2 separate regions of the Homo sapiens genome follow, and region 2 is linked to region 1. Evidence: fine-mapped expression QTL. A gene starts in region 1. The other region holds a variant in brackets. All regions are shown on one strand. Distances are between the middles of the regions.

What was found. PIP is the estimated chance that this variant, and not a neighbour inherited with it, causes the effect.
Region 2: its variant is fine-mapped to the expression of CRACDL in whole blood (TOPMed, PIP above 0.99).

What each region holds. Positions count from the first base shown.
Region 1 is chr2:98,929,457-98,941,208 of GRCh38, forward strand. CRACDL (CRACD like) reads right to left here and starts at 6,769. Exons shown (of 10, transcript NM_207362.3): 1 at 6,482-6,769. RefSeq lists a silencer at 5,936-6,136.
Region 2 is chr2:98,761,376-98,773,127 of GRCh38, forward strand. LINC02611 (long intergenic non-protein coding RNA 2611) reads right to left here and starts at 10,523. Exons shown (of 4, transcript NR_126337.1): 1 at 10,244-10,523; 2 at 7,527-7,671; 3 at 7,236-7,411; 4 at 1-1,203. RefSeq lists enhancers at 8,864-9,364, 9,365-9,865. The variant A/G (reference allele first, on the strand shown) is at 6,309.

The DNA.
Region 1 (11,752 bases):
ATCTACAGTGGGACGGGGGAGCCGCCTCTCTGGTCATGTCTCTGTCCTGAGGAGCCAGGGGAAGAAACCATCCCTGAGCACACAGTTCAGTGTCTGTGGACCTGAAGTGAGTGTAAGCAAAGCTTCGCGAACCTCTACAGACCCACACCTGGTCCCAGAATGCCCCAGGCACGGCAGGCTCCCCCATCTGGATGGGATGATGGCTTCACAAAACTATGCCCAATCTCAAAACCCATTCTCAGGGACGAGTTTAGTGTCTTCAATAAGGGGCATTTGTCAAATTGTTTGGGAACATTCAATTTTGAAGAAAAAAACAACAAACGCAATGGGTGAATCTCATAGGATATGTCAAGTAGAGATAAATAGGAAGTAGAGCAGGTGTATATCAAACAGAGGAGGAGATACGAGCTCTAAGACACCTAGTATTCATGAAGCACCACATGGACCCAAGGCAGCTGGGCAGCAAAGACTCACGATACATTCGACATGGAAAAGGTGCTCGATACCACGATACATTTGTATGCACGGGACCAGTTACCCAGAGGAACCTGATATTCCCTCAAAATTCGCTTCCCCACTGGTGACCCAATGCTGGTCCTCTGAATCCAAGGCTGTTCAACACACTCACTAGTGAGCCCAGACGTGGCAGGGCAGAACCATCCCTGTGTCTCTCCAACACGACGGGGCGTATGTCTTGGCCCAGGGCACCTCCCATCCGTGGCCCCCATGCAAGTGCTTCAAGTCAGGTCCTTCTCCTCACACATTAGTGGGGAAGGCGGATGCTGCAGAGCAAGACAGGACACACGGATGCTTTCCAGCTACCACATCTCCGTCCCCACCCTCTGTACCGTGTCCCCTACCCCATCCCCATCCCCACCCTCTGTACCGTGTCCCCTACCCCATCCCCGTCCCCACCCTCTGTACCGTGTCCCCTACCCCATCCCCGTCCCCACCCTCTGTACCGTGTCCCCTACCCCATCCCCGTCCCCACCCTCTGTACCGTGTCCCCTACCCCATCCCCGTCCCCACCCTCTGTCCTGTGTCCCCTACTCCATCCCCATCCCCACCCTCTGTCCTGTGTCCCCTACTGCATCTCTGACCCCACCCTATCCTACCTATATCACCTACCCCATCTCTGTCCCACCCCTGTCCTGTGTCACCTACCCCTCTTCCGTCCCCTCGCTTCTCCCTGTGTGTTCTAAATTGCGTCAAGGTTGTTCCCCACATGACAGCTTCCACCAGCAGCTGTGCTCAGGAGCACTGTGTATGGCAGTTATGCTCATTTTCCTTAAATGCCATCAGATCTCAGTTATGGAAGGACCCTTTATTGCTTTAGGGAACATTATTAGTAGGGGTCCTAACTGGTAGTTATAACAAATGCCCTTTAACCGTCTTACAAGAAAGACAATAAGAGAGTAATACCTATAAATAATTTATGGAGCATTTTCTATGTTTGTCATACAGCACCTCATGTAATGCTCATGTATGTGTGTGTGTGTGTGTGTGTGTCTACCACCCCCCCACCCCATCTAAGGGGTGACTGAGGTTGCAGGACTTCTAAGTGGCACAGCAGAAACCAGAGCCTGGGCTGGGCATGGTGGCTTACGCCTGTAATCCCAGCACTTCGGGAGGCCATGGTGGGTGGATCACTTGAGGTCAGGAGATCGAGACCAGCCTGGCTAACATGGAGAAACCTCGTCTCTACTAAAAATACAAAAATTTGCCAGGTGTGGTGACAGGCACCTGTAATCCCAGCTACTCAGGAGGCTGAGGCAAGAGAATCCCTTGAACCCAGGAGGCAGAGGTTGCAGTGAGCAGAGATCGCGCCACTGCACTCCAGCCTGGGCGACAGAGCAAGACTCCATCTCAAAAAAAAAAAAAAAAAAAAAGACACTAGAGCCTGACTCCCCTGACCTTGACTGGACCAACTGCTTTAAAAAGAAGGCAACCTCTCTGACATTTTCTCCTCCCACATATGGGGCAGTGTTTCCGAGAGTAGTTTCTTGGAAACTGCACACCCCGCAGCTAATGGTTCTGGTGCTTCCCACAGACATGAGAATTTGAGGGCAGAAACCATGGAGAGACTGGTGTATGGACCTCAGAGGTTAAGGCAAATATTTCTGGAAGTTCTTCAGCTACACACAGTTAAAAACCAGCCCCACACACCACAGCCAGGAGAAGGCCTGAGCAAATAAATACCTTTCCATCTGCACTTTTCAAAACGAACTTCCATAATTTCCTTTCACAGATACCCAGATCATAAGAAAAATGTCTGAGAATCCTTCCTACCAGCAGTCTCCTCCAGAATGGTATCTGAGCCTGTGAAAAGCTGGTGGCTGACGCTGCTCAGGAGGTGCCCTGTTACATCACATGCCTGTCTTATCATTTCCCATCATTTCACTGCTAAATTCACTGGGCACCGACAGAAACAGCATCTCTAGTTCATTATCCACTTGGCTCAGGATTATGGGTTAGACCCCCTTAAAAGCAATACAAATATCTTCAAGGTAATTTGTCAAAATCATAAATGTGTCTTAAGGACTCTTAATCTGACCTAAAGTTTTGAAGTTATTTTCCAGACACAGAGATCTAGAAAGAGCATTATTTGATGAGAATTCTCCTGATTTCCGTTCAGTTTGGGGAAAACAGAAGGATTTTGAACGCTGGCTGTCTGTGTTGTCCTACCCACAGGTGACACCAGCAGTACCGGTGTTTGCAGGTATCTAGACAACAGAAGAGATCGGCGGGACACCAGCCAGCATCAAGCCACAGGTGGGCCTGTGAACACCAGGCCGGGCCGGCCTGTCTCCCTTTCAAAGGCAGTTCTCTTGCATCTCACATCCATGTGGCCAAGTTGTTACTTTAAGTTCCACCTCCTCCAAGAAGCTTCCCCTGATTACCTCCCCTTCCAAATCCAGTGTGAACTGAGTGTGAACTAAATCCAGGGCTCAGGCTTGCAGGTACAGGCTTGACAAGGGCTCATCTTATTCACCAGAAGCAGCAATTATGACTCGGACCTTTCCGGCTTGTAGTGAGTGCCAAGCACACAGGGGGTTGCTCTGATGATGAGGCAGCAACAGCATAAATAGGAACGGTGGTTTGGAAGACGCCCATCCCCATGACAGTGGGCCGGGCTGTGTACGCAGAAAGCCATTCAATCCCCGCAACGCCGCTGCCAGCTACTCCTTCCTTGCCTTCTCCCAGCCCTGACTGAAGTCTCCAGCAGCCCCGACGGCTCTCCCAGTCTTTTTCAGGTAATAAAAAGGCCTAGCACACTTTACCCAAGACAGTGGTGAATACAGAGATATTTTAAACTTCCTTTTATGTATCAAGGGCAAAGCCTGGAAGCTGGAGCCTAGAGCTCTCCCCAAAGCCATGATGTGCAGAGGACAGAAGACAGAACCTAAGAAACAGCCCTGCCCCACAGGTAGAAAAATGCCTTCTGGGTCTGGGACATGAACCCAGGCACTGAGCACCTACCGCTGTGCACCCCACCTGGAGGAGCAGGGGTGGGGCTGAGGGGGCGTTCTTGTCCTGCTTCCTGTGGGAACTCAGGGAAGGCCGAGCTCAGAACAGTAGAAATGGAGGCCTAGTACGGTTCCGCACAACCTGGGCGGGCTCCCAGGTGCCCAATAGGGGCCCAGAAGAGACCTCAGAGCATGGGGACCTCTGGGCCAATGGAAGAGCCAGGTCCCCGCTGTGGCTCACCCTGGGGACACCAGCTGGACAATGATGGAAATGTGAGCCGGAGGCTCCATGTGGAGGGGAAAGGGACTCACTGGGGCACCGCAAGAGGACCAGATGACCAGTCAGGGCCACTCCCCTCAAGCTCTGATGGGACTACAACCCTCTCCTGGTGCCCAGGGGTGACTTGTAGCGAAAAGGGGTCCCCGAGGAGTAACGTGGAAAGACTGAGAGACTGACTCCCACCAGGGACGAAGCTACCTTTAAGCTAAATAGTGACTGAAATAATACCATTGAATTAGGCTCTAGAAAAACAGAACCATGCACTGGGAACTGAGTATATGAAAAAGGGAACCAAGGGACTTCACTAGGGACAGCAAAATCAAGCTCACTTACACAAAATTTTGCACCTTTCCACAATAAACCCTGGGCAGGTTTCCACCCAGAGAGTCCACCTGCAACACAAGCAGTATTTATGTGCACAACAAGCAACTGCATGACAAGGCACGGAGCCAGCCTGCAGGGGAAGAGCCAGTGACTGCAAGGTAGCTAAGTCAAATCCAGGCCCACCAGGACATCACAGAAAACCCACCCTCCTGGAGGCCTGGTACCTTCACATCTATTCTCTCATTTAACCAAGAGCATCCCTGAGGGCTGGCCAGCTGAGTCCATTTCAGCTGCTATAACAAAATACCATAAACCGGGCAGCTCATAGACAACAGACATTTATTCCTTGCAGTTCCAGAGGCTGGAAGTCCAAGATCAAGGCACTGGCAGGTTGGGTGTCTGGTGGGGGCCCATTCCTCATAGAAGGCGCCTCCTCACAGTGTCCTCACATGGTGGAAGGGACGAGCGAGCTCCTTGCGCTTCTTTTATAAGGGCACCAAGCCCATTCATGACCTATCACTTCCCAAAGGCCTCATCTCTTAATACCATCACCTTGAGGATTAGGAATCCACATATGAATTTTTGGGGGGACACAAACATTCAAACCATAGCACTATCACTGCTCTCATTTCCCTGAATGGTGCACTGAGATTGGTCAAGATTCATCCTTTTTTTTTTTTTTTTTTTTTGAGACTGAGCCTCACTCTGCTGCCCAGGCTGGAGTGCAGTGGTGCCATCTCAGCTCACTGCAACCTCTACGTCCCTGGTTCAAGCAATTCCCCTGCCTCGGCCTCCCGAGTAGCTGGATTACAGGCGCCACACCTGGCTATTTTTGTTTTGTATTTTTAGTAGAGTCAGGGCTTCACCACGTTGGCCAGACTGGTCACGAACTCCTGACCTCAGGCAATCCACCTGCCTCGGCCTCCCAAAGTGCTGGGATTACAAGTGTGAGCCATCGCGCCCAGCCAAGATTCATCTTAACTAGCCTAAGAGGGCCAAGCAGAGCAGTGATCTCAGCAGGACAGCCACCCGTTAGTGAGCCCCACATGACGCATCCTATGCAGCAGCTGAGCTGCGCAGCATCCATGGATGGTACACTTTATTTTATAAGTGAGGAAACAGATGCTTAGAGAGTAAGAACTTGACTCGTGGAGGAGGTCCAGAATCAGACTCAGGCAAGCCAGGTACTCACTACAGGCACAAAATTTAAGGGGGTACCAAAAATGCAGTCAGATAAATGCCTTATTACAATATTTTAAAACATCAAAACAAATACAAAAATCCCTAATGTACAAAATCTCACATTTTTAAATAAAGACAGGATCAGTGTTCCTGATTTTTCCTGTTGCCTCAGACTCCAAGATGGCACAGCATAGGGGCAGAGCCCAGAAACCAGCCCAGCTCAACCTTCTCCACCAGCTCCACACGACACTGTCTCTAGATATCTTTCTCCTCACAATTTTATAACCTCAATAGGTTCTTAGGATGACCACAGTGCTCCATCATTCCAGGTGTGCGCCCGTGGGACCGAGCTCCAGGGAAAATACCAGGGGTCTACACAGATTCTAGTCTATGGTATATGCAAATGAAGGAAGCCTGCAGGCTCCAATAACCTAGTAGGATACCTTAAGACCAGTTTGGGAAGGTGTGAGCTGGCTCTAAAAGGGTAACACAGCTGCCTGTCTTCCACTTGGATTTCCTGGCTCAAAACTGTCAACAGGACCTGATGCCTGCAGGCGGTTTGCACCTACACGGAGTCAAATTCACACAGCCGCACTGCTTCTGACTTGCATTTCAAAAGCAAGTGACTATTATGCTCTGATCACATGTGAACTTCATACCGAATCTTTGCCTATGATGAAGCTTCTGTTCAACAAATATTTGTTGATTAAAAATGTGAACACTTCTTAGATCAACTCCAGAATCCCTCCCGGGTGGCGTGTAATCAAAGCCTAAAACCTGTTAAATAAACCATCACCTAAAGCATAAGGCAGTTCGTGAATGTGTCCACTCCTTTCCCCTGCAACTGCGTGTGGAGACAGTGGGCATAAAGACCTCGTATGCTAGCAATTTCAACCGAGCAGGACCTTCTCTCCCTCCTCTTTCATTTTCCTGGCGCGTAAACTGCTGGATTTGCCTCACAGTGGAAAGTTGGGTCCAGCAAAGTGAGCAAAGGGAAACTTTGGGCACTTGCACGAGCGCGTCCGGCTCCCCCTCGGCCGCAGGAGCTGCCCAGGGCTTCGGCGGCGGGGGTGGCGCCTCTCCGGGTCCGAGGGGCCCCTGGCTTCACGGCCTCTGCCCTCGACCCCCTAGCCCCGGCCCGCCCCACCTCCGCCCGGTGCCCCCGCGCCCACCCCGCCTTCGACCCACGCCTGCCTTGGGACACGCGATTTCAAACCCCTCGAGGTACCTGGGACAGGAGCGTGGCCCGGGCTCGGCGAGACGCGCAGAGAAGGGCACCTTCCGCGGGGTGCGGCGAGCCGGGGCTGCTCCCGCCGCGGTGCGCGTCTAGCCCCAGCCCAAAGCCGGGGCGACGCAGCAGGTGGCCGCGCGGCCTCCAGACAGCCCGGGTCTGCGGCCGAAGAGCTGGACGCGGGCGCTGACACTACCCTCCCGCGGCCGGCCCGGCCCTGCGCCCGGCGCGCTCCCAGCTCCCAGCTCCCAGCTGCAGGCGCGCCGGCTTCGCTCGGCTCCGCTCGGCTCGGCGGGGGCGGACGCCGCTCAGCTCCCCTCGCCGGCCGCCGCGCGCACCTCCCCCGCGGCGCACAGCTCCCAACGCCGCCTCCGCAGCTGGCCCGGCGGAGTGGGGCCGAGACCTCGGGGCGGGGGGCGCAGGCGCCGGCCTGGGCCTTGGACGCCCCGCGGGAGGCGGGAGGGCGATCGGGGTGCGGGGAGGGCAATCGGGGTGCGGGCCCGGCTGCCCAGCGCTCCCTCCCAAGCCCGCGCCGCTCCCGACCCGCCTCGGCCTGTCCGCGCAGCGGCGCTGTCGGGGCTCCGGGAGGGCCGGGGGGCACCGGAGACCCGGAGGTGGTGGCAAGTCAGTCCGGGACTGGCCCAGGGCACCCGCGCGCGTCGGTGAGAGGGACCCGGGACTCCAGGTGACCTCCGGATCCGCCCTCTAAGTCAGTGGCCTGCGGCGGGCGTGGGCGCCGAGGGAAGGAAGTGTGCATTTGAATAAAAGTAAAAGTTTGTTATTGTTGTTGTTTTATAACCCTGTGGGTCCTGAGCGTCTCCAGGCTAATTAGGGAAGCTGCCGCCCCGTCTGGAGGTGATTCATGGGTGTGACACCGGCGAGTGTGGGAAGAAAGGCAGCTGATGCCGTCTCAGCTGCGCTCGCCTTTCTTTATTTTCTTTCTTTCTTCTTTTTTTAAAATCCTTTTTCTTGTAAAGACAGGGCTGGTCCATTTAGGGAGACCGCGCACGGAGGGAGCTGCCTTGGGTGGTCGCCCAGCGAATCTCCTCCGGAGCCCGAGCCGCGGCTTTGGTCTGCGGATGGCACAGCCCGGCGACCCCGTCCCGGCCTCTTCCCCGGCGGTGCACGCCCAGGGCCAGGCAGGCGAGAGGCGCGGGAGTCGCGTCCCAGCAGGGAGCCCAGGCTGCGACGAGTCCTCAGGGGACGCCTTCAACCCAGGCTGGAAGAGATGATACTAACGTCAGACGGGGAGTCTCGGGTGTCACCGGACGCCAGAATGAGCGGCGAGGTCCGCATTGTTTGGAGGGGATCACGCGGAATCCGCGCTACTCCGCGGGACGCTGGGTCCGACGGCTAGCGCCGCGCACACTGGAGGCCTGGAAAAGCCGAGCTGCTCGGCTGTCGGAGGCCGAGAGGGCCTGGACCCCGGAAGGAGCTCTCTCCACCTGTGGCTTTCAAGGGGCTCAAAATCCCAGATAGAAGAATCGAGCGAAACGAGGCCCAAGACAGTTTCCCATTTACTTGGGCATATCAAACGAAGTTTCCTTTTTGAATTTTTAATGTTATCCCTTGGCCACAAGCTATTCACGTAAAAGCCTCTTTTGATGGTTAAGTGCTTTAAGTTCCCTGTATAAAAAGAACAAAAATAGTGATTCAGCCTTATAACCCCCCCCCAAATTAATAACCTGCATTCACAATGAATGGGTGACTCATGACAATCAGAGACAACGAGTTTGTTGGGTGTCTGTGTGTTTGTTTTTTTCAAAATCCTCAAACTAAACTGAACAACTGCAAAAACTATACTCCCCTCTCTCCTCTCCCACCTTGAGCCTCTGCTCCTTGCTCTTCAAAATCATGTTAGTTTTTGCCGCTGTAACTACTAAATATTTATGGACTCCATAAACTGCCTTTCTACCTAAGAATTTCGTTTCCAGAATATCTTAAACCTCTGGCTTTATTTGTATTCTGTGGGTGGCTTTTGAAGTTCCTGGAGGTTTTCAGAAGACAAAAACCGAGGTTCCTGGTGATTAGTTAAGGCCGAGAACATGGTGTCAACACTCAAAATAGAAACTGGTGGGGAATTTTGTGAATAGGTTGGGAAAATGGAAAATTATCTGGAGCCTGGTAGAGCAAGCACCTTCATGCTTTAAAAATGTGGAAAGAAACTGTGCCCCTCCCCTACCCCTGGGACTTTCATCTTCCTGTGAGAGCTCTGGTTCCCAGGGCCCTGCCAAGTGGCTGGCAGTCAAGGAGGCTCTTCCCCTCCTTAATGCCTTTTGGATCAAGCCTTGAAGCCAGGTTAAGAAAAGACTAAAATGTTCAAGTAAGGATTTGTCAAAAGTGCAAAAGAAACATAGACCCCACATAGTGTTTCTTGCAGTCTGCATGGACAACCAGAAAGCCAAGAGCATGGGGTTGGTTGTTTTTTGAGGCTCCAGAAAATCTCTCAGCTACCCCTGAACACATCCCTTTCAGAGAAGGAGAACCTCATTGACAAGCCAAAAGAAAGAAGACCATGCTACTTCTAAATATATTGCACCTCACTGGGAACATGCTTTTATCAAATAACCGGGCACGGATCTAAGCCATTTACAAATAGTCACTCATTTAAATTATCCACCTGCCAGCAGACCCTCTGAGCTAAGACCTGCCATTACCCTGATTTTGCAACCGAGATGCTGCTATTATCTCCATGTGGTAGACGAGGAGACTCAGCATGAGAAGGGCAAGTACCATGCCCAAGGGCATGCAGATAGTAAGTGGCAGAGCCAGGGTTTGAACCCCTAATCTGCACTTAAGGCTGGGCAAAGCTGCCTTTCTGAAAATGATGTCTACCTCTGCAAACTGAAAATATTTTTTAGTTTAGAAAAGAAAGGAATATCAACCCTTCCCACACTAAGAGGAAGGCATCTTTTGGGATCTCAGAAAGCAAGAGTATTTACACTTTTGATATTTACACTTTAAAATATTTACATTTGCTTCTTCACTCAGTTATTCCCAACACCATCATCATCATTGCTAATCATCAGTCCTGAATCTTCACTTAGTCAAACCAGAGGCTGGTAATTAATGGGGTGAAGACGGTGAAGTCAAAGGCAGTGTGCTTTCTAACCCAGGATGGTAGCGGGGACAATTTTCAGGACAGTGTTCATCCCAGGGTTCTGCTTTTGGGTCTTCACAGACACTCAATCTGCTTGTCTTCACTTAGGTTCAGAAAATACAGGCCCCATAGGCACAGACATCCCTACCTGGGGAGAGGATTGGAGTCAAGGGCCAGCCAGGAACCAATTAGGAAGAAACAATATCTCAACAGGCCCATTGCCCAGGTGAGCCATGGTGGCAGAGGTCGAATTGAGCTGCCTCACTGCCAGAGGCCACAGGGACCCTACTCCTGAGGGGCTCTCTGCAGGCGGCTGTCCAGCAATACCCAGATCTTAGCCACCATCCCTCTGATCCTTCTCCAGCAATAGGGATTGGACCCTGTCCTTTCCCTGTTTCAAAACCCTTCCCTGGCTTCCCTGCAGTTAGGGTGAAACCCAGACTCCTTAAGAGGACCACATCTCCTGGGCTTCCTTTCAGTACCACCCTCTGCTCCCTCCACTCCAGCCACACTGGCTTTCTTCCAGTTCTGTGAACAACCCAAGCTTCTTCCTGCCCTGAGGGCTTAGCCCCAGCTGCCCCCACCCTTCACCTGGCTGACTCCCACTAATTTTTCAGGACTTAGCTTCAGTGATACTTCCTTTGGTCTTTTTTTCCTGACCTGTATTTCCCTCCTACTCCTCTTCTTTAGAGAACATATTACACTTTGGAGTGATTTATTTTTTATTCCATACTGGAGTCCCTCACCAGAGCACAACCTCCAGGAGGGCAGGGTCTGTATCTGTGTCTAGCACCTAGCACGGTGCTGGTTTACAATAGCTGCTGGATCAATATTTATTAATCAATGAACTTTCACCATGGCCTATTATGACCCTGAAACTGCTGTATCTCAAATGCATGAGACTGCACCCACTCTCTCTTCCCAATTTTTTTCCACCCTAGTCTTGATCCCGTTGTTTCCTAAACTTCTGCTCCTCCCCCATCCAAGGACCTTCTGCTCCAACTGCTCATTTCTCACTAGTCATCTCTCTCCAGCCTCCACCCTGCCTAGCCCTGGGCCTCATGGTCATCCCTTGACTGCTCTCTTACCAGCACCCCCAGTGCCCTCATCCCTTGGTCCCCCCCCACCCCCGCCAACACCTTCCTGGTTGAAACCCCAACCATACACCAGCCTCCTCTCTTCCTACACAAGCCCTTTTGTGCTGCCAAGGAAATTCACAGAACCATGCAGACCTAAACCACAAAAATACAGTCTCCACCCACACTTGGGCCTTACTACTTTGAGCCCATTAATGCCTAGTGTTCCATTATTGGAATGCTAAGCTTGTGGGAGTTATTTACATCCTACTGCTGAAGGTCATGGCCAAGGTCTGATTTTTCACATAAGAAAATTGCAACCTCCAGCATAAATGGGTTAAACATTCTCTGAAAAACAAACAGGATGGTACATAAAATAAGAAAGAAGGAAAGATCACCAATAATTCCAACCGCAGAGGCAATCACTGTTGGCATTTTATTGTTTTTCTTCCAGTTTTTCTTTTTCCAAAAAAGGGATTCAAGCTGGCCTGCAAACTCAAATGGCTTGTACATAGTTGAGATTAAGGCAAATACACAAGATTGTATCCTGTTTTTTTCAGCTACATTATACACAAGTATCTTCCCTTGTGATAATGTAGTTTTTATAAATATAAGTTTTTAATAACTAATATTTCATTATGTGATACATCATGATTTATTATTTTAAACCATTTCTGTATTGTCTTGTTTTCAACTTGGGAGTGTTCTACAAAATTCTTTAACAAGATCTGTATGCGGCAGACTCAGTGGCTCACGCCTGTAATCCCAGCACTTTGGGAGGCTGAGGCAGGCGGATCACCTGAGGTCGGGAGCTTGAGACTAGCCTGGCCAACATAGTGAAACCCCGTCTCTACTAAAAATACAAAAATTAGCCGGGCATGGTGGCACGTGCCTGTAGTCCCAGCTACTTGGGAGGCTGAGGCAGGAGAATCGCTTGAACCCAGGAGGTGGAGGTTGCAGTGAGCCAAGATCGTGCCACTGCACTCCAGCCTGGGTGGCAGAGCGAGACTCCGTATCAAAAAAAAAAAAAAAAAAAGTATCTGTATGCATAATTTGTCTGCATTTATTTTGCCTATATTTAATTTATTTCCT
Region 2 (11,752 bases), 170 kb before region 1:
TTTTTTCAGTCATGTGTCACTTGAAATCTTATGATTACAGTTTGTAAATAGCAAGTCAGAAGTTGGAAACTCAGCCAAGATTCTGAAACTGCCTTGCCTAAAGCAGAGGCATCAGAGAATGCACCTATTCATAAACCCGTCCCAGGCGCTTGTGAAAAGATACACTGACATTTAGGCAGGAAATGCACACAAGGTAATTCATTCCTATTGAAGCTCACTGAGCATCAATCTGGTTGCGATATGAATTATTCATGTCCCCCCCCACCCCGCCGCCGCTGCCACGCCAGCCTCATGTTCAAGGCTGATGTCAGTGCAGGACCCATAGCTCCTCTCTCTAGGCCCTTTCCCGGGCAGCTGTGCACAGATCAACACCCCGTCCTAGAGCCAGCTCTCATTCTCTCTGTGGTGAGGGCTCACCTACACGGACCCAGAGGCTGCGATCGACACCTGATGGGCCACTACAATTCAATTTTCTTGTCCATCTGCTAGAAGACAGATGAATTCATCCAACAGCCAGCCCAGGACTCCAGAGGAAACAACTTGAGATAATTTATGAATTGATTTATGCCACTTCTCTTTCCACAAAGAATGTATGGTGGCTGCATAATATGCCTTTTGTTGAACTTACCAAATCGTTCTCTCATTTCATGTTGTGGACGTCCTAGTAGGGAGTGATAAATGCATATGCTATAAGGCCCAAACAGTTATGCTGATGGGGAGCAAGGAGCAAGCGACAGGGAGTGGTGGAGACTGTGTCCAACGGAAGAGCACCTGACCCACCTGCAGGGGCAGCCGCTGCCCATCCAAGCTGGTCGTTGCCTGTGATGATGCTCTTGGTGTTGCAAATCCTCTGATTTGTTACAAAAGGTCAGATTCCCAGATTTTAATTTGGAGATCTCCTAATTTTTGAAGTGTGGGGCTGAATAAACCTGCCTATTGGTCCAATTCAGCCAGCCAGTTGATAGTCCCTGATCTTGTTTGTTTGCTTGTATAAATGGCAGGCTTTCATGCCAAGGATTCTAACTTCATGTTCTTTTTTATTCCCTCTACCCTTCATCCCTCCTTCCACAGTACATAGCATTTATACCAATTATGATTTTCAGAATTAGACACCAATTTACCATCCTCATAGTTGCTCCGGATGCATCTTTTTTGTTATTTCCTTTTGTGTCCTCCTCCTTTTTTCTCGAAGTTCTCCAGACTCTGAGAGAGGAGGGGAAGCGAGAACAGGAGTCGATAATGGCCCTTTTCCAGCCACACACCCTCATCTGTAAGAAAATGTGGCTGAGTCTCCCTCTCCACGCTTTATCTTCTGTGTTGCCGAAGCATTGCCAGAATGTCAGGGCTCAGGAGAAAAGAGGGGAAGGATGCCAGATGAGGGTCTGGAAGGTCTCTCCTTTGTTGTAAGGCAGCAGTGGAGCAGTTAAAGGCATGAGGGACCTGCCTCCATACATCCTCTGCCAGGCGTGACTGAACTCCCACCCGCCTCCCCATGTGCCTCCCAACGGTGGGACACTTTCTTTTCTGGGGCTTGCCACTGCCTCCTAATGATCTCCCCCATTCAACTAGATACTTTGTCTTTGATGACAAGCCCTGGGGTCCCAAAGAAACCTGGGCTATATGCACAAGTAACCAGAATCCGCGAGTCAAATTCAGTTTCAGTAATTGGCTATTTGAGTCTAAGGGGTAGTTTGTTTAGTTCTTTGTTTTTTCTTTTTCGTTTCCTATAGTATTGATAAAGACACAGATTAGGCCAGGTGTGGCAACTCACACCAGTAATCCCAGGGCTTTGGGAGGCTGAGGCAGGAGGATCGCTTGAGCCCCAGAGTTTGAGGTCAGCCTGGGCAACTAACAAGAGACCCAGCTCTACAAAAACTTTAAAAATTAGCCAGGTGGTGTGGTGAGTACATATGGCCCCAGCCACATGAGAGGCTGAGGCCAGAGGATCATCTGAGGCCAGAAGTTCAAGGCTGCAGTGAGCCCGGATGGCACCACTGCACTCCAACCTGGGCAGCAGAGTGAGACGCTAGTCTCAAAAAAAAAAAAAAAAAAAAAAAAAGATGCAAATTGACCTATGTGACAGGAAGCAGGTCCAGACGACTGTTTTTCAATTGACAAATAGAAATTATATATATTTATGATGTACTACGTGTTTTATATATGTTTACATTGTGAAATGACTAAATCACACTAATTAACATATGCAATCTACTCTCAGCACATTTCAAGCATACAATACATTGTTATTAACTATAGACACCGTGCTGTATAATAGACCTCTTGAACTTCTGCCTAACTGAAAATTGGTATTCTCTGGCCATTAAAGGCATTCCCCATCACCTCTGCCCTGACTCCCTGTTAACCACCATTCCACTTTGCTGTTATGAGTTTGAGGTTTTTAGGTTTCTCTTATGAATGAAATAATGTGGTATTTCCCTTTCTGTGCCTAGCTTATTTCACTTAGCAAAATGTCCACAGCTTCATCCACGTTGTTGTAAATAACAGGATTCCCTTGTTTTCTAAGGCTGAATAGCATTTCATTGCATTTATATACCACATTTTAAAAATCCATTTATCCATTGATACACACATAGGTTGATTTTATATCTTGGCTATTGTGCATAATGCTGCAGTGAACATGTAAGTGCAGATAACTCTTTGCCATGCTGATTTCTTTTCAGAAATCAATCAAAAAGAAAATTTTGAAACAGGATCTTATTCTGTTATCCAGGCTGGAGTGCGGTGGCATGCTTAGGGCTCACTGCAGCCTCGACCTCCCAAGTTCAGGCAATCCTCCTGCCTCAGCCTTCTGAGTAGCTGAGACCACAGGTGTGCACCACCAAACTCAGCTAATTTTTAAATTGTTAGTAGAAATGAGGTCTCCCTATGTTGCTCACCATGTTGGTCAGGCTGGTCTCAAATTCTTGACCTCAGGTGATCCACCTGCCTGAGCAACATAGGGAGACCCCTGGACTTGAACCCCTGAACTCAAATGATCCTCCTACCTCAGTTTCCCAAAGTGCTAGGATGACAGGTCTGAGCCAGCACCCCCAATCGATATACTGATTTCATTTCCTTTGGATGTGTATGGTAGTTCAATTTTTAATTTTTTGAGGAAGCTCCATACTGTTTTCCATGATAGTTATACTAATTTCCATTCCTACCAACTGTGTAGCAATGTCCCTTCTCTCCACATTTCCTTATTGGTGCTCAGAAGTCAAAATTTGAGGAACTACAGTATTAGTATAAAAAATGTTAAAGCACTTTTATGGGAATTGAAAGAAGACAGCTGCAATTTCAGGAAACTGATTAAGAAACACTTGGTCATGCAACATTTGCTCCACATTTTCAAGAATGTGTTAATCAGTTCTCCGCTTTTTAAAGAATGTGATGGGCCAGGTGTGGTGGCTCATGCCTGTAATCCCAGCAGTTCGGGAGGCCGAGGCAGGTGGATCACCTGAGGTCAAGAATTTGAGACCGGCCTGACCAACATGGTGAAACCTGGTCTCTACCAAAAATACAAAATTAGCCGGGCATGGTGGCGCATGCCTATAATCCCAGCTACTCGGGAGGCTGAGGCAGGAGACTTGCTTGAGTCTGGGAAGCGGAGGTTGCAGTGAGCCAAGATTGCGCCACTGCACTCCAGCCTGGGCAACAACAGCAAAACTCCATCTCAAAAAAAAAAAATGGGATGGGATGGGTGCAGTGGCTCATGCCTGTAATTCCAAAACTTTGAGAGGCCAAGGCAGGCAGATCCCTTGAGCTCAGGAGGTTGAGACCAGCCTGGGCAACATGGTGAAACTCTGTCTCTACAAAAAATACAAAAATTAGCCAGGCAAGATGGTACACACCTGTGGTCCCAGCTACTTGGGGGGCTGAAGCAGGAGGATTGCTTGAGCCCAGGGGGTTGAGGCTGCAGTGAGCCAAGTTGGCACCACTATACTATAGTCTGCATATCAAAGTGAAATCCTGTCTCAAAAAAAAAAAGAATGTGACAAATATAATGTAGCCTTTTATTGATGACTCGGGTCAATTACTTATGATCGGAAATTCTATTTCAGCCTGTAATCCCAGCACTTTGGGAGGCCAAAGCAGGCGGATCACTTGAGGTCAGGAATTCGAGACCAGCCCTGCCAACATGGTGAAACCCCGTCACCACTAAGAATACAAAAATTAGCTGGGCATGGTGGTGCACGCCTGTAATCCCAGCCACTCAAGAGACCGAGGCAGGAGAATCGCTTGAATGCGGGAGGTCGAGCCTGCAGTGAGCCAAGATTGCACCACTGCACTCCAGCCTGGGTGACAGAGTGAAGCACCATCTCAAAAAAAAAAAAAAAAAAATTGTATTTCAATTCAATAAGAATTTACTGAGCCTCTCTACTTTGTGCCAAGCACTACACATTGACCTTTAACCATTTTTAAATTTACTTTAAAACTAGGCCTTGAAAACATTGTGCTAAGTGAAAGACATCAGTCCCAAAGGACCATACATTTGTATCATTCCATTTATATGAAATGTCCAGAATAGGCAAGTCTGCAAAGACAGAAAGTAGATTAGTGGCTGCCTGGGGCTGGGGGTACTGGGGCACAGTGGCTAGTGTGGGGTAATGATGGTGTTCTAATGACATCTGGGGCAATGATAATGCACTGCTGATTGTAGTGGTGGATACACAACCATGAATATATTAAAAAACGACTCCGTGGTACACTGTAAATGGGTGAATCGTACGGTGTGTGAAATACATCACAATAAAGCCCGTTTTTAAACAAAGTTGTTGGCAATGTTCGGAAAACAGAAAGAGACAGCACCTGAACAAGGATGAGGAAGGGAGGACAGTGGGTGGGCCTGGCTCAAAATGATGATCAGTCCCTCTTTGTCTCCATAGGATCCTTTGCCCCTCCTGGACTAGCTTGGGACACTCTGCTACTCCACCGTCTGCTCTCCTTCCTGTCCCCATGCCTGCCTGTGACAGCTTCTATGGTATCAGCTGCTCCCCATCAGCTCTGGTTCTGGAAACCACAGAGGTTCAAGGCTGGGCTTGGGAGTCGGAAATCCCCTGGTTTTATGACAGGGGTGTGACCTGCACCAGCAATGTGACCTTGGACAAGTTTCTTCAACCTTTTTTTTTTTTTTTTGGAGACGAAGTTTTGCTCTTGTTGCCCAGGCTGAAGTGCAATGGTGCAACCTTGGCTCACTGCAACCTCCGCCTCCCAGGTTCAAGCAATTCTCCCGCCTCAGCCTCCCGAGTAGCTGGGATTACAGGCTCCCAGCACCACGCATGGCTAATTTTTTTGTATTTTTAGTAGAGACGGGGTTTCACCGTGTTGGCCAGGCTGGTCTCGAATTCCTGACCTCAGGTGATCCACTCACCTCGGCCTCCCAAAGTGTTGGAGTTTTTTTTAACCTTTTTACGCTCAACTTTTCTCATCTATAAAACAGGGATGATGATATCTACCTCATGGTGTTATGGTGAGGATTAAAGGAGATAAAGCTCAGAACGTGTCTGACTCATAGTAAGTGATCAAAAGGACTTTGTATCTGGGAAGGGGAAATCAGCAGGCTGTCAGAGAAAGTTTCACTACAGATAAAGCTGGAATCCTCAGAGCATGACCCTGGAGGTAGTTATTCTGGTTACTCAACTCGGTTAGATGTTGAGGATGTTGGTATCAATGAATGTTCCTGCCAGATGAGATGTTAACTGAATCACCAGTGTTCCTTAAAATAGTAGAAGGGGCAGGCTGGGCGCGATAGTTTATGCCTATAATCCCAGCACTTTGGGAGGCTGAGGCAGGTGGATCACAAAGTCAGGAGCTTGAGACCAGCCTGGCCAACATGGTGAAACCTCGTCTCTACCAAAAATACAAAAATTAGCCAGATGTGGTGGCTGGCGCCTGTAATCCCAGCTACTCAGGAGGCTGAGGTAGGAGAATTGCTTGCACCCGGGAGGTGGAGGTTGCAGTGAGCTGAGATCAAGCCACTGCACTCCAGCCTGGGCGGCAGAGCAAGACTCTGTCTCGGGAAAAAAAATGGTAGAAGCAGGAAAGGAACAAACACTTGCACCTATATGCCATGTGCTTGTCATTCAGCGTCTCGTTTAATCCCCAAAGTAACAATATGCCATAGGTAGGTATTGGTAGCTCTATGCTACAGATGGGAAGCCAAGGCCCACACAGCTAATCATGACGATAATGCCATTAAACACTCCTACATCGTGCTACAGTCGTGTACTCACTCATTTAATCCTCAGCAAACCCTATGTGGGAGTTGCCATTATTATCCCACTTTGCATATGAGGAAACTGAGGCAC[A/G]GGAGGAATAAGTAACTCGCTGAGGTCACACATATTAAGTCGCAGATCTGAGACACAAACAGAAACAAATCTGACCCCAGAGCCCGTGTCCCCCCCATGGCTATGCTGTCCATGAACACAGCAGAGCATCCTTGTGGTGGCCACATCTAACCGTAAGAGGTGCTGTAAACAGGGCAGTCCGTGAGATGCTGTACACATTAAAAGGAGGGCAGGCTCTGGCTTCAGTCAGGCAGCTAGCTCTTTTGGGGTGACTTGAAGGGCACTAAGCCAGCTTCGCTGGGCTCTTCTAAACCTTCCTATCTGAGAATACATGCTCAGAATACCATTTTTTAGCTTAAGGCTGTTTGCAGTTTGGGGTTTATTAAAATGTCCCTTAGCTGGGCACAGTGGCTCACACCTGTAATCCCAGAACTTTGGGAGGCCAAGGTAGGAAGATCACCTGAGGTCGGGAGTTTGAGACCAGCCTGGCCAACATGGTGAAACCCCGTCTCTACTAAAAAATACAAAAATTAACAGGGTGTGGTGGCGGGCCCCTGTAATCTCAGCTACTCGGGAGGCAGAGGCAGGAGAATTACTTAAAGCCAGGAGGCAGAGGTTGCAGTGAGCTGAGATTGCACCACTGCACTCCAGCCTGGGTGACAGAGGGAGACTCTGTCACAAAACAAAACACAAATAAAATGTCTCTTAACAGCTGTTAGTCACTGCAAGGATGTGGGTGGCTGAATTTCCAATCTTACCCTGGCTTTTTTTCCCCCTCACACAGTTTTGGTAGCAGAGAAGAGAGGAAGATCTTGAAGGTCCTGATGAGGCCAGGTGAATTCTAAGAACCTTGGGCCTCATCTCCCTCCCACTCTGCCCTCACAAGGCTGGCTCAGTCTTGATAGCTGATGTGTAGAGTGTGTGGGAGAAGGTCGGGCTGGGACTCACTCTGGTCAGATCCATCTGTCTTCTCATCTCCAAGGCTGCTGTGATGGGAACAGCAGGAATCTCTTCGCCGCTGTGTCTACCCCAGTGTGGTTATTCAATGTTGGTGGCCTCTAAATGCTAGAAAAAGGACATTTTCTTCCTTGCAGACATCCTGGGATAAAGGAAGACAGTGGTTCCTAAGGGCATCAGACACGGTGGGAGGGAAGGGTGCAGATGGCATGTTAGTTTGTGTTGGCTGCCAAAGCAAATACCACAGACCACATGACTTAAAACAGAAATTTATTTTCTCACAGTTCTGGAGGCTGGAAGTCCGAGTTCAAAGAGTCAGCAGGACTGGTTTCCTCTGAGGCCTCTCGCCCTGGCCTGTAGCTGCTATCCTCTCCCTGCATCTCCACGTGGTCATCCCTCTGTGTGTGTCTGTGTCCAAATTTTTTTCCTATAAGGAGAGCAGTCATATTGAAGTAAGGACCAGTCCATTTTAATTTAGTCACCTTTAAAGGCCCTATTTCCAAATGCAGTCACATTGTGGATGTCTGGAGGTTAGGGTTTCAACATTTGAATCTTGGAGGGACAGAATTCAGCCCGTAACAGATGGTGAGGGGGACAAGCTCCTTCTGCCACTTGCAGAGAATATCAAGATCACATGCACCTGCCAGAAATTCCCCGGGAGAAGGGTTCATCCTTCCACCCCGGAGGATTTCCAGGCCCCGGGTGCCCTGCAGGGCAGAGGCACAGCCGTGGGCTCACTGCTGGCCACTCCAAGATGCCTGGGTGCCTGGGCCAGGTTCAGGTTTATTTGAACAGGAGACCCGGAAGGGAGCAGAGGCTCTTTCTCTGCTCTGCAGTTATGAAACATACTTAGGGGAAAATCAAACTCCATGCTAATTTAATAGTTATTAATAATTGATAACACCCATTCCTCGAGGATTGTTTGCACAGTGCTTGGAGGCCTGAGAATTGGTGATAATGAAATTTTAGCATAAGATAAAATTGGGTTAAGGGTTTTTCTGCCTCTGTTTAAAATGTTCCTGTATAAAATATTCATTTTAGGTTATAAACTAATAAACAAATATGTCCCCCATATGCTCCCATGTGTGAAAATCTAACGTGATAATGAAAGTAAAAATAGTAATAAACAAATGATAGGAAAATGATCATTTGCTACACAATGAATAAATTATTAGAGTAATAGATTAACATGAAGAACAGGTACAGGGTGGGAAGGGGAAGGGCTTGGCATCTACGGCCCGCTCTGTGGTTTGTGTGGACATGTGACTCGGTGCCAGCAGCTCTTTCCTTTGTCCTTCCAGCAGGTGTTATTAAGCAGGGATGACTTGACAGTTGCCGGGCTGGTCTCACCAGAACCAGGCAGATGCGCTTCGCCCGCGTTCCTGACTCCCCCTCCTTCCCGTCTCTTCTCTTTTCAAATGACGCCATTTATGCAAGAGGGGGCAAAAGGTGAAATGCAAACCCTTTGAGTTAGCCCTGATAAAATCTCCTCATTTCAAATCCTGCTGGCAAAGCCGCCTGCAGCCTCCCTCCGCGCCCCTCTGGTCGCTTGTTCTTCTACCCAATCCCTAGGGATCATGCCCATCAGGGTTCATCCTAGAGCTCCTGCTCTTCTCTACAGCACATTCTCATAGCCTTGGAAAATGCCTCTACTGACAACTCCCAACTTATATTCCACGCCAAGACCTTCCTCGGAGCCCCAGCCTCACACATGCCCACGCCCCTGCCCCCCGCCCCCCCCCCCCACCCCCGCCCCGAGGTCTTCTTGACATCTCTGCTTGGTGACGTGCAGGCTTCTCAATCTCCCTGCTCCTCCCTCCGCCTCAGTAAATGCTGGCCCAGGCTGCTCGCTTGCTCAAGACACAACCCCAAGAGGCGTCCTTGATGCTTCCTTTTCCCTCACTCCCCATATCCAACCCATCCATGAGTTCTTTCGGTTCCACCTTAAAAATACCCCTAGGGGCCGGGCGCGGTGGCTCACGCCTGTCATCCCAGCACTCTGGGAGGCCGAGGTGGGCGGATCATGAGGTCAGGAGATCGAGACCATCCTGGCTAACACGGTGAAACCCCATCTCTACCAAACACACACACACACACACACACACACACACACACACACACACACACGAAATTAGCCGGGCGTGGTGGTGGGCGCCTGTAGTCCCAGCTACTCAGGAGGCTGAGGCAGGAGAATGATGTGAACCTGGGAGGCGGAGCTTGCAGTGAGCCAGGATCGCGCCACCGCACTCCAGCCTGGGTGACAGAGCAAGACTCCGTCTCAAAAAAAAAAAAAAAAAAATACCCCTGGGGTCTGCCCACTTCCGTCCATCTTCCCGGTCATCACATGGGTCCTGTCACTGTCACCTCTGGCTGAGATTTGTGCAGTAGCCTCCCAGTGGATCTCCCACTGTCACTTTGCCTGCCCAACCAGCAGATAGAGTGATTTAGAAAGAATAAGTAGATCATGTAACGCCACTCCCAACCCCAGTCTGCACAAAGCTTTTCAGTGAGTTCCTGTCGCACTTAGAATAACACCCACGCTTCTTACTGCACAGAGACCCCGACTGAGCCGCCCCACCTGTCTGTGCAGCCCTGTCTTGACCTGTTCTTCCCTCTCCTATGACATTTCTGGCTGGATTGATCTCTAACGATCCCCTAGGACTTTATTTAATACTCTAAGTGAGATCTGGATCAGGCACCTCAGCATTACCTGGAGCTTGTTAGAAATCTCAAGCCCTCTCCAGACCTACTGAATCAGGAATCAGGATTTCAGCAAGATCCCTGGGTGATTCAAATGCAAATTAAGGCTTGAGAAGCTCTGCTGCAGCTCAGAGCACAGCAGGCCCTTTCCACCCCAGGGCCTTTGCACATGCTCCTCTTTCCCCGGTTCCTCATACAGCTTGCTCCTAGGATACCTCTGGAAATGGATGTGATGAACCATGGCTGCTTCTGGGGAGAGAAACAGGGAAGCTGGCATTGGGGATGGGAGGGAGAATTACCTTTTATTGTGTACTCTCATTCATCTTCAAACAAACAAGCCATTTTAACAGCTGTTTTTCAGCCTTCAGTTCTATTTACAGCCACTATGAAAAGTAACCTCCCTTCCTTCCTTGGTGTCACAGTGTCCTTTGTTTCCTCCATGGTGTTCATCGTAATTTGGTGATCGTGATGTTTCTTCGCTGATGTCTCACTTCTGCCATCAGCATGCAGGAAGTGAAGATGTTGTCTTGTTCACCCCCCTGCATCCACCAGCTTTAGATCCATGCTGCACACAGGAAGCTCTGAAATGCTGACAAAATGAGCTTCTCTGAAATCTTACATTCAGATGCTCCTCCCTGCCCCTTCCGTCCCTCCATGCAGTGCACCTACTAATTTGCTCCCACGACTCCTGTTTCATACCCGCGAGGGGCTCGTGTCCTGATGGCTCTGCTCTTATCTTCCAGCCTCCTTGGTTTGCATCTGTTCTGTGCTGCTTTCTTCTCTGGCTTCCACACACAGAGCAGTTGGCCTCACCTCAGTGTAACTGAGAGAAATGAAAGTCATCAGAGGCAACGCGCTCACTTCCCTGCCACAAAGCCCGCAAACCTGTCCACGTTTGCTGCTGTCTTTTTCTCCCTTCCATTTGCTAACGTGCCACTGCTCTCTTACTGAAAGTGCTCTGATCTCACTCCTCCAGTGGTGCTGGTAAACGTTTCACAACTGACTCTCTGGGAATAAAAAGGTCTGATTTGAGGAATTTGCTGGTTTCTGTGGTGTAAATACTCCCATCACAGCCAATTTCAAGCCACCAGTGAGATAACACGACACGCAGAGTTGGAAGAGATGCATAGACGTGAGTAATCACTCACATATAGCATTCTCACCACAGGGACACAATGGATGGACATTATCTCAGGGGAATAGCTATTGGTAGAAGGTAACAAACTAGGAAGAGATGAGTTTTCAGTATTTATTGCTTTGTCTCTATGTAACCTATTTAACTGTAAGTTTTCATCATTTAATTTTTAACACTGGCTGTGTTTGGCGCCTGGCTCAGAAAATTCCTGCAGATTTCACAGTCGGCTCTCCCGCCTGTGGTCGTGCCTTGCAGCCACTTTTCCACCCCTACACATTTCTCAATCACCACAGTCTGGCTTCCGCCCCACATGCCGAGGAACCTCTCCCACCTCCTTGTTGCTGACTTCCCTCTTACCTTCCTGGATCCCCAGGGGTACGGGACTCTGGGACAACCTACTCCTCCAGCTTCCACAGCCCTGCAGAGCCCGGCTTCTGCCTCTCCTCTGTCCATATGCTCCTGCTCTCTGTCCTTCCTCAATTCCTCTCCTTGATCCATCCCTTAGGGTTTCTGGCCTCAGCCCTGCCTCCCTTTGAGCTCTCTCTTGGCAACTTCAGCCGTCTCCCCGCCCAATGAACCTCTTCTCTCTGTGGGTGACACTCCATTCTCTATCCCCAGTCCCCTCCCAGGCTTTGGCCCACAGCAGGCCCTCACGGTGCATCATGACTTCAGT